Linked DNA regions of Homo sapiens: region 2 is linked to region 1. The links come from fine-mapping of genetic effects on plasma protein levels. A gene starts in region 1. The other region holds a variant in brackets. All regions are shown on one strand. Distances are from middle to middle.

Evidence for each region. A credible set is the group of variants that fine-mapping cannot tell apart. PIP is the chance, under the fine-mapping model, that this variant and not a neighbour inherited with it causes the effect. Protein levels are from antibody-based Olink assays in UK Biobank. Linkage for the fine-mapping came from a reference panel and not from the study's own genotypes, which makes the PIPs less certain.
Region 2: its variant is the best candidate, but not a certain one, in a credible set for the plasma level of the SHMT1 protein (UK Biobank, PIP 0.88).

The regions. Positions count from the first base shown.
Region 1 is chr17:18,360,089-18,368,610 of GRCh38, reverse strand. It overlaps SHMT1 (serine hydroxymethyltransferase 1), which reads left to right and starts at 5,061. Exons shown (of 12, transcript NM_004169.5): 1 at 5,061-5,239. RefSeq lists a silencer at 4,967-5,436.
Region 2 is chr17:18,308,502-18,311,499 of GRCh38, reverse strand. TOP3A (DNA topoisomerase III alpha) reads left to right here. Exons shown (of 19, transcript NM_004618.5): 2 at 2,559-2,618. Among named protein-coding and RNA genes, the nearest start is that of TOP3A, 5.0 kb to the left of the region's middle. The variant A/G (reference allele first, on the strand shown) is at 152.

The DNA.
Region 1 (8,522 bases):
ACAAAACACTACAAGAGGCAGAAAAAGAATGGAAGACAAAAATACAAAGAAACAAAAGCAACAATTAGAAAACAGTAAAAAAAAAAAGGCAGATATTAATCCAATTATATCAACAATTCCTTTGCATATCAATGGTCCAAATTAACCGATTAAAAGAGAGAGATTGGGCTGGGCGAAGTGGCTCACGCCTGTAATCCCAGCACTTTGGGAGGCCAAGGTGGGCGGATCACGAGGTCAGGAGATTGAGACCATCCTGTCTAACATGGTGAAACCCTGTCTCTACTAAAAATACAAAATATTAGCTGGGCGTGGTGGCGGGCGCCTGTAGTCCCAGCTACTTGGGAGGGTGAGGCAGGAGAAAGGCGTGAACCCAGGAGGCAGAGGTTGCAGTGAGCTGAGATCGTGCCACTGCGCTCCAGCCTGGGCAACAGAGCAAGACTCCATCTCAAAAAAAAAAAAGAAAAAAAGAGAGAGATTGTCAGAGTACAGCAAAAAACAAGATGCAACTATATGCTCCTTGTAAGAACTACACTTTAAAGATGTATATATTAAAAGTAAATGGATAAAGAAAGATCTACTATGCCAACACTAATCAAAAGGAAGCAGGAGTCCCTATATTAATTTCAGACAGTACAGGCTTCAGGGCAAGGAAAGTCATCAGGAACAGGACAGGTGCTGGGTGGCTTCCCAGCACTTTGGGAAGCCAAGGCGGGCAGATCACTTGAGGCCAGGAATTCAAGACAAGCCTGGCCAACATGACAAAACCCTGTCTTTACTAAAAATACAAAAATTAGCTGGGCATGGTTGCACTCGACTGTAATCCCAGCTACTCCTCAGGCTGAGGCACGAGACTCACTTGAGCCTGGGAGGCAGAGGCTGCAGTAAGCTGAGATCATGCCACTGTACTCCAGCCTGGTTGACAGAGACTCTGTCTCAAAAAAAAAAAAAAAAAGAAAGAAAAGAAAAGAAAAAGAAAAAGGAAGGAAGGAAGGAAGGGAAAGAAAAGAAAGTTGTGAGGGATAAGGACAGGTCATTACATAATGATTAAGGAGTCAATGCTCAAAGAAGACATAACAGTCCTTAACATGTATGATCCTGACAACAGAACATCAAAATATGTGACTGAAAAAGTGACAGCGCTGCAAGGAGAAACTATTATAGTTGGCGACTTCAATGTCCCTCTATCAGAAACGGACAGATCCAGCAGGCAGAAAATCTGTAACTCAGTAACACCCTCTGTAACTGGATATAATGGAAACCTATAGACTATTTCATACGATGACAGCAGAAAAAAAAGAAAAGAAAAACGCTTTGGTTTTTCCCGTATCTTAGGCTGGAGAGCAGTGGCACGATCACAGCTCACTGCAGCCTTGAACTCCTGGGCTCAGGAGATCCTCCCCACTCAGCACCCTGACTAGTTGGGAATACAGGTGTGCACTTCCACACCTGGCCAATTTTCTTTCTTTCTTTTTAATTTTTTTCATCATGTAGCACAAAATGTCATAATTTTTTTAATTTTAATTTTTCATAGAGATGGGATCTTGCTATGTTGCCCAGGCTACTCTTGAACTCCTGGCCTCAAGCAATCCTCCTACCTCAGCCTCCCAAAGTTCTAAGATTACAGGTGTGAGCCTGAGTCACCATGCCCAGCCACAAATAAAATATTTTTTAGCTGGGCGCGGTGGCTCACGCCTGTAATCCCAGCACTTTGGGAGGCCAAGGCGTGTGGATCATGAGGTCAGGAGATCGAGACCATCCTGGCCAAAATGGTGAAACCTCATCTCTACTAAAAATACAAAAATTAGCCAGACGTGGTGGTGGGTGCCTGTAGTCCCAGCTACTCAGGAGGCTGAAGCAGGAGAATTGCTTGAACCTGGGAGGCAGAGGTTGCAGTGAGCCAAGATTGTGCCACTGCACTCCAGCCTGGAGACAGAGCAAGACTCCATCTCAAAAAACAAAAAAAAAAAAAAAAAAATTTAAGTATCAGTAGGCCGGGCACAGTAGCTCATGCCTGTAATCCCAGCAGTTTGGGAAGCTGAGGCAGGTGGATCACTTGAGGTCAGGAGTTTGAGACCAGCCTGGCCAACATGGCAAAACCCCGTCTCTACTAAAAATACAAAAAAAAAAAAAAAAAAAAAAAAAAAGCCAGGTGTCATGGTGCATGCCCGTAACCCCAGCTACTCGAGAGGCTGAAGAAGGAGAATCACTTGAACCCAGGAAGCAGAGATTGCAGTGAGCCAAGATCACGCCACTGCACTCCAGCCTGGGCAACAGAGACTCTATCTAAAAAAAATAAAAAAATAAAAAATGAAGCATTCAGTGCTGGAGAAGAAATGGGAAATGGGTATTTCCCTAAATTGTTGCTGGGAGTGTGAATTGTTACAATGCTTGTAGAAAGCAATATGGCAATATTTACTAAAAGCTTGACCCAGAAATCTTACTTTGGATATTAAAAAACTCACGGGTTGGGCACAGTGGCTTATGCCTGTAATCCCACCACTTTGGGAGGCTGAAGCGAGCAGATCATCTGAGGTCAAGAGTTCGAGACCAGCCTGACCAACATAGTGAAACCTCGTCTCTACTAAAAATACAAAAATTAGCAGGGCGTAGTGGCGCACGCCTGTAGTCGCAGCTACTTGGGAGGCTGAGGTGGGAGAACTGCTTGAACCCGGGAGGCGGAAGCTGCAGTGAGCCGAGATCACACTATTGCACCTCAGCCTGGGCAACAGAGAGAGGCTCCGTCTCAAAAAAACAAACAACAGGCCGGGCGCGGTGGCTTGTGCCTGTAATCCCAGCACTTTGGGAAGCCGAGGCAGGTGAATCACGTGAGGTCAGGAGTTCGAGACCAGCCTGGCTGACATGGCGAATCCCTGTCTGTGAGAAAAATACAAAAATTAGCTGTGCACGGCCGGGCGCGGTGGCTCATGCCTGTAATCCCAGCACTTTGGGAGGCCGAGGCAGGCGGATCAGAGGTCAGGAGATCAAGACCATCCTGGCTAACACAGTGAAACCCTGTCTCTACTAAAAATATAAAAAATTAGCCGGACATGGTGGCGGGCGCCTGTAGTCCCAGCTACTCGGGAGGCTGAGGCAGGAGAACGGCGTGAACCTGGGAGGTGGAGATTGCAGTGAGCGAAGATCGAGCCACTGCACTCATGCCTGGGCGACAGAGCGAGACTCCGTCTCAAACAAACAAACAAAAAGAACAATTAGCTGGGCATGGTGGTGCACGCCTGTAGTCCCAGCTACTCGGGAAGCCGATGCAGGAGAATTGCTTGAACCAGAGAGGCAGAGGTTGCAGGGAGCCAAGATCGCATCACTGCACTCCAGCCTGGGTGACAGAGCGAGACTCCATCTCAAATAAATAAATAAATAAAACAAAAACAAAAAACAAAAACACTCACTATGTTGGCCAGGCGCAGTGGCTCTTGCCTGTTATCCCAGCACTTTGGGAGGCCGAGGAGGATGGATCACTTGAGATCAGGAGTTCAAGACCAGCCTAGCCAATATGGTGAAACCCTATCTCTACTAAACATACAAAAATTAGCCGGGTGTGGTGGCTCACGCCTGTAATCCTAGCACTTTGGCAGGCTGAGGCAGGTGGATCACAAGGTCAGGAGATCAAGACCATCCTGGCTAACATGGTGAAACCCTGTCTCTACTGAAAATACAAAAAATTAGCCAGGCGTGGTGGTGGGCTCCTGTAGTCCCAGCTACTCGGGAGGCTGAGGCAGGAGAATGGCATGAACCCAGGAGGCAGAGCTCGCAGTGGGCCTAGATCGCGCCACAGCACTCCAGCCTGGGCAAGAGAGGGAGACTCCGTCTCAAAAATAAAAAAAAATTAGCCAGGCGTGGTGGCGGAGGCCTGTAGTCCCAGCTACTCAGGAGGCTGAAGCAGGAGAATGACGTGAACCCGGGAGGTGGAGCTTGCAGTGAGCCGAGATCGCGCCACTGCACTCCAGCCTGGGCGACAGAGCAAGACTCTGTCTCAAAAAAAAAAAAAAGTTTTTTTTGTATTTTTTGTTTGTTTGTTTTTCGAGATGATGAGGGTCTCACTCTGTTGCCCAGGCTGGAGTACAGAGGCAAGATCATTGCTTACTGCAACCTCTGCCTCCCAGGCTCAAGTGATCCTCCCATTCAGCCCCCCAAGTAGCTGGGACTACAGGCGACTGCCACCACACCCAGCTAATTTTAAAATTATTTGTAGAGACAAGGTTTCACCATTTTGCCCAGGCTGGTCTTGAACTCCTAGGCTCAAGCCATCTGCCTCGGCCTCCCAAAGTGCTGGAATTACAGGGGTGAGCCACTGCGCCCGGTTTTTATCATTCTTATAATAATTATTGTTATCATTTGACAAATAAAAAAATTTATGACGCAGCCTCAGGTGGTCCTGACATGTGGCCCCGGTTTTTATCATTCTTAACAATAGGTAATGTTCATTGAGTCCTTATTGTGTGTCAGTATTTTATTTATCTTATTTTATTCTTCTTGAGACGTTGTCTCGCTCCGTCCCCCAGGCTGGAGTGCAGTGGCGCGATCTCGACTCACTGCAACCTCCGCCTCCTGGGAGGCAACATAGTTAGACCCCCATCTCTACTTCAACCTGGGGGACAGAGTGAGACCCTGTCTCAAAAAAATAAAAATAAAAAATAACAAAAATAATAATAATAAAGTGTCTGCTCTTGGATTATACACCTACAGAGTAATAATGTTGCAGTTTGGACGCACATTTGTCCTACTTTAAATGACCACCCTGCAAACTAAAAGTAGTACCATGAACAAAATTCACTCATAATCCCACGGCCCAAGCGACAGGCTTAAGTGAGGAAGGCCCTGTGTAGTCTTCCTGGAAATCTTGGTCCACACACCAGCCCTGCAGCCAAAGCGGGTCAGTTCTGCAGGTCCCTGCCCCAGGTGCGCAGCTGCACTACGCGGCCTCCGGCCCGCCCCGGAGAAACAGGCCCTGCCCGCCGCTGCGCCGCAGCCAATAGCGCGGGTGCGTTTGGTGGCGGCCCATGCTTGGCTGCGCTCTCTGATTGGGCGCCTCCGGGGGCGGGGCCAAGCCCAAGCCTGGCGCGCAGAGTGCACCTTCCTGAGCTCGAGCGGTCCAGCGCCAAGTTCGGGGTTTGGGGTTGGAGCGGCTGGTCACGTGGCTGGCCCGCGGCGGTGCGCGGGGCGTTGGGTCAGCGGGTCTGGGACTGGTGGCACCGGCGGCGGCGTAGGACGGAGGCGTCGCTAGGTACGTGCGCGGGCCGTGTTCCGGTAGGTGGGCGGCTTCGGGTCCGAGGGCCGCGGCGTCCCAGAGCCCGGGGGGTGCTTCGGCGTCCTCGCTGTCCCCCGCCGTACCCCACCCTCTGCAGCCGCAATGACGGGAGGGGAGCGCTTGGGTCGCGCCTGGGCTGGGGATCGGGCGGCGGCCAGCCGCAGCGCCCCAGTTCCAGGCACATTCGGTATGATGGGGTGGCGGCCCGTGGCCTTTGGCAAGAATGCGAAGGCTTATCGGGGATGTGAGTAGTAGCTCTCCACTGAACACTTTTCTCGTTGAGCATTTTCGATTTAAACAATCCTAGCTCCTTCACAACAAAGCTGCAAGTCAAGTGCTACTGTTTCCCCCATTTTACAGGTGAGGAAGGTGGTGGGGCCCTGAGAAAGGAGGCAACTTAAATGGCAGAGCCCGGAATAGAACCCGGGTTCTCAAAGCCTGCGCCCCTAAAGGCTGCGCGCAGGGTCGCTCCACTTTTGGCCCGTGCCACCAGATCCCTGTGGGGAATGAGCTCTTCCTGTTGCCCGCAATCTGCCACCCCCTGTTCTAGGAGACAAATGTTGCACTGTGAAGTTCTTGGCCCGGTGCCTTGGCTTCGAGATTCCGGGAGTTAAGTGACCCTTGGTCCAGCTGAGGTCAGCACAGATGCGGGCCTTCAATCGGGCAGTTACCCAGAGAATAGACTGGAAACACCAGTTTAGGTTCTTGCAGAAATAACATTGTAGGCCGGGCGCGGTGGCTCATGCCTGTAATCCCAGCATTTTGGGAGGCCGAGGTGGGCGGATCACTTGAGGTTAGTAGTTGGAGACCAGCCTGGCCAACATGGTGAAACCCCGTCTGTACTAAAAATACAAAAAAACCTGGCTGCCCATGGTGGCACACACCTATAATCCCAGCTACTCGGAAGGCTGAGGCAGGAGAATCGCTTGAACCCGGGAGGTGGAGGTTGCAGTGAGCGGAGATCACGCCACTGCACTCCAGCCTGAGTGACAGAGTGAGACTCTATCTCAAAAGAAAGAAAGAGAGAGAAAGAAAAGAAAAAAAAGAAAAGAAATAACGTAAATTTATTACTTGGGGGAACTTGGAACGGAAGTGGGTAATTGTGTTTTTATTTAGTGCAATGTCCTGGGACAAGGCCTTGGAACTGAAGAGAAACCATTGTTCAGATTCTGGCTCTTATATGGCTTTAGACAAGTTAGCTCCCTGGGCCTCAATTTCCTCTTCTGTAAAGAAGAGAACACAAAATGTGTGTGAGATAGAAGATGTGCAACAAGTTAGTTCCCTGAGCAGATCCTTGGCTGGATCCTCTTATGTGACAGAGGCCCAGGTAAGATTTGGAGGCATGGGGAGGCTGGTGACCTTGCAGGTGACTTCACTTACTAGGTCTTTTTCCCTGACGTTGAGGATCATGCCACACATGAGCAACAGTGCCTCTACAGAAATATCCAATGTTGTAATGACTGATGTTGCAGTGAGCTGTGTTGGCTGGGGGACTTACCAGGTATTACTGAATGTTAATGAAGATGTCCCTAAGATTCCCAATTTTCTTTTTTTTTTTTTTTGAGACGGAGTCTCACTCTGTTGCCCAGGCCGGAGAGCAGTGGCGCGATCTCGGCTCACTGCAAGCTCCGCCTCCCGGGTTCACGCCATTCTCCTGCCTCAGCCTCCTGAGTAGCTGGGACTACAGGCGCCGCCACCACGCCCAGCTAATTTTTTTTTATTTTTGTAGAGACGGGGTTTCACCATGTTAGCCAGGATGGTCTCGATCTCCTGACCTCGTGATCTGCCCGCCTCGGCCTCCCAAAGTGCTGGGATTACAGATGTGAGCCACTGCACCCAGCCCCCTTTTTTCTTTTTTGTTTTTTTTTTTGAAACGGAGTCTAGCTCTGTCACCCAGGCTGGAGTGCAGTGGCATGATCTCGGTCCACTGCAATCTCTACCTCACTGGTTCAAGCTATTCTCCTGGTCTCAGCCTGCTGAGTAGCTGGGATTACAGGCATATGCCACCATGCCTGGCTAATTTTTGTTTTTGTTTTTTTTTTTTTTTTTGAGACAGAGTCTTGCTCTGTTGTCCAGGCTGGAGTGCGGTGGCACGATCTCAGCTCACTGCAACCTCCTGGGTTCAAGCGATTATCTTGCCTCAGCCTCCTGAGTAGCTGGGGTTACAGGTGCGCACCACACACCCAGCTCATTTTTGTATTTTTAGTAGAGATGGAGTTTTACCGTGTTGGTCAGGCTGGTCTCGAACTCCTGACCTGGGGTGATGCACCCGCCTTGGCCTCCCAAAGTGCTTGGATTACAGGAATTGAGCCACTGCGCCCAGCTAATTTTTGTATTTTTAGTAGAGATGGGGTTTCACCATATTGGCCAGGCTGGTCTCAAACTCCTGACCTCAAGTGATCCACCCACCTCGGCCTCCCAAAGTGCTGGGATTACAGGCGTCAGCCACCGCGCCTGACCGCTTTTTTTTCTTTCTTTAGAGAGACGGGGTCTCCCTATGTTGCCCAGGGTGGTCTTGACTCTTGTGGTCCTGTGACTCCCCAGACTTCAGGTGTGCAAGCCTGATTTCTGACCCTTGGCCAGTCACACTTTCTCCTTTGTCTGGCCTTTGAACTTGGGGTGCTCTGCACTTGTTTACTCTGCGTAGATTGCTCTCATCCCAGATTTCATGGTTGGCTCCTTTCCACAGCTCAGATTTCAGCTCCGGGACGTTCCCTGACCCAGTCTAAAGTAGCCTTGCACCCATTTATTGCATCTTTCTTTCTTTTCTTTTCTTTTTTTTTTTTTTGAGACAGGGTCTTGTTCTCTTGGCCAGGCTGGAGTGCTGTGGGAAAATCTGGGCTCACTGCAGCCTCAACCTCCGGGACTCAAGTGATCATCCTGCCTCAGCCACCCAGAGTAGCTGAGAATACAGGCGTGCGCCACCAGGCTCGGGTAATTTTTTGTATTTTTTTTTAGAGACAGGGTTTTGCCATGTTGCCTAGGCTGGTCTTGAACGCCTGGGCTCAAGTGATCTTCTCGTCTCAGCCTCTCAGAGTTCTGGGATTACAAGTGTAAGCAACCATGCCTGGCCTTGTGTATTTCTTTTTGGTTTTTTTTGTGATGGAGTCTTGCTCTGTCACCCAGGCTGGAGTGCAATGGTATGATCTCGGCTCACTGCAACCTCCACCTCCTGGGTTCAAGCGATTTTCCTACCTCAGCCTCCCGCATAGCTGGTATTACAGGGGCCCACCACTATGCCCATCTAATTTTTGTATTT
Region 2 (2,998 bases), 54 kb after region 1:
CAACATGGCAAAACCCCATCTCTACTAAAAATACAAAAATTAGCCAGGTGTGGTGGCGGGGTCCTGTAATCCCAGCTACTCACGAGGCTGAGGCAGGAGAATCGCTTCAACCCGGGAAGTGGAGCTTGCAGTGAGCCTAGATTGCGCCATT[A/G]CATTACAGCCTGGGCGACAGAGTGAGACTCCATCTCAAAAAAAAATTAGGCCAGGCATGGTGGCTCATACCTGTAATCCCAGCACTCTGGGAGGCTGAGGTGGGCGGATCATGAGGTCAAGAGATTGAGACCATCCTGGCTAACACGGTGAAACCCTGTCTCTACTAAAAATACAAAAAATTAGCCGGGCATGCTGGCAGACGCCTGTAGTCCCAGCTACTCGGGAGGCTGAGGCAGCAGAATGGCATGAACCCGGGAGGTGGAGCTTGCAGTGAGCCGAGATTGTGCCACTGCACTCCAGCCTGGGCAACAGAGTGAGACTCTGTCTCAAAAAAAAAAAAAAAAATTCATAGTTGTTGAATGCATGTTTGAGCTGAGCCTGAAAGTTTTACCAGGCAGTAGAAACTGTAAAGAACAACCTAGTGGCTTGAAACTGCTTGGCATATTCAGAAACAGTGAGAAGTTAGGGGTGTGGTGTGGTGGGAAGAGACACCGATGAGTTAAGCAAGAGCAGCAGTTGAGTGCAGATCATAAGAATCTTAGAGAGCCATGTAGGTTGAGTGGTAAAATGCACAGAAAATTGACCATTTTAATCATTTTGAAGTATATAGTTCAGTGGAATTTTGTCCACTAAATGTGCCACCATCATCATTATCTAGTTCCAGAAGGTTTTTTTTCACCCCAAGAGGAAGCCTCATATCCATTAAGCAGTCACTCCCCTTACCCTCTCCTCAGCCCCTCACAACCACGAATCTGCCTTCTTTCCCCATGGATTTGCCTGTTCTGGGCATTTCCTATAAGTGGACCCATATCTTACATGCTCTTTTGTGTCAGGTTTCTTTCACTTAACATAATCTTGAAGTCCATCCATGTTGTACCATGTATTAATATCAGTTCTTCATTCCTTTTTTTTGGTTTTTGAGAAGGAGTCTCTCTCACTGTCGCTCAGGCTGGAGTGCAGTGATGAGATCTCGGCTCATTGTAACCACCGCCTCCCAGGTTCAAGCGATTCTCCTGCCTCAGCCTCCCAAGTAGCTGGGATTACAGGCACCCACCACCACGCCCAGCTAATTTTTTGTATTTTTAGTAGAGACAGGGTTTCACTATGTTGGCCAGGCTGGTCTCAAACTCCTGACCTCATGATCCGCCCACCTCAGCCTCCCAAAGTGCTGGAATTACAGGCATGAGCCATTGCACCTGGCCTCTTCATTCCTTTTTATGGCTGAATAATATTCTATCATATGGATAGATCATATTTCATTTTACCATACATCAGTTGATGGACATTTGGGTTGTTTTCATCTTTTGACTATTGTGAATAGAACTTCTATAGACATTCGCTGGGCGTGGTGGCTCACACCTGTAATCCCAGCACTTTGGGAGGCCGAGGCAGGTGGATCACGAGGTCAGGAGATTGAGAACATTCTGGCTAACACGGTGAAACCCCATCTCTACTAAAAATACAAAAAAATTAGCCGGGCGTGGTGGCAGGTGCCTGTAGTCCCAGCTACTCGGGAGGCTGAGGCAGGAGAATGGTGTGAACCCGGGAGGTGGAGCTTGCAGTGAGCCGAGATCACGCCACTGGACTCCAGCCTGGGCGACAGAGCCAGACTCCATCTCAAAAAAAAAAAAAAAAAAGAACTTCTATAGACTTTCATGTACAAGTTTTTGTTTGAATGTGTTTTTTTGTTTGTTTTTTGTTTTTTGAGACAGTCTCGCTCTGTCACCCAGGCTAGAGTGCAGTGGCGCCATCTCCACTCACTGCAACGTCCACCTCCTGGGCTCAAGTGATTCTCCTGCCTCAGCCTCCCCAAGTAACTGGGATTACAGGCACACACCACCACACCTGGCCAATTGTTGTATTTTTAGTAGAGATGGGGTTTCACCATGTTGGCCAGGCTGGTCTCGGACTCCTGACCTAAAGTGATCCAACTGTCTCAGCCTCCCAAAGTGTATTTGAATGCGTTTTTAATTCTTTTGGGTAAATTTGTAGGAGTGGAATTGCTGTGACATGTGATAACTCTGTAACTTTTTGAGGAAACACCAACATTTTCCAGAGTGGCCAAAGCATTTTACATTTCCACTGACAATGTCCAATTTCTCCACATCCTCAACAACACTTGTTATTTTACTTGTTTTTTTTATTATTCTATTTAATTATTATCCTAATGGGTATGGAGTGGTACCTCATCATGGTTTTGATTTGTGTTTTCCTAATGATTAATAACATTGAGCATCTTTTCATATGCTTGTTGGCCATTTCTTATCTTCTTTGGAGCAATGTTGGTTATATTTTTGGTATCATAACCAAGAAATCATTGCCAAATTCAGGATCAGAAAGAATTATACAAAGGAATCCATTGTTTTAAACGTAATTTATATTTTTTACTTATTTTTGTTTTATAGAGAGAAGGACTTTCAAAATTCAACAAGATCTATGAATTTGATTATCATCTGTATGGCCAGGTAGGTGCTAAAATATTTCTAAAATATTTCAATCATAAGCAAGAGAAAGTAGTCAGCCTCGTCATATGTAGAATATGTCGCTGTCTTAAGAATAACAACTGTTAACAACCTAAAGGTTCCTGGATATGGGGTGATCACTTTATAATTTATGAGGAGTTCTCTTTTTAATAAAATATGGTCCCATCTCAGCTCTTCATTACAAAAAAAAAAAGCTAATATACAATAGTTTGAGGAAAATTTAACTGATGCAAGAGGCGTCAGTTATACACCATATCATTAGAATGGTGATTGTATTCCTGTGACTTTTGGCTTTGAAGAGCTTATATTTATGTTTATTTCTTCCCAATCAGGTTTTTAAAAATGTCTTTAATAGAAGCTCC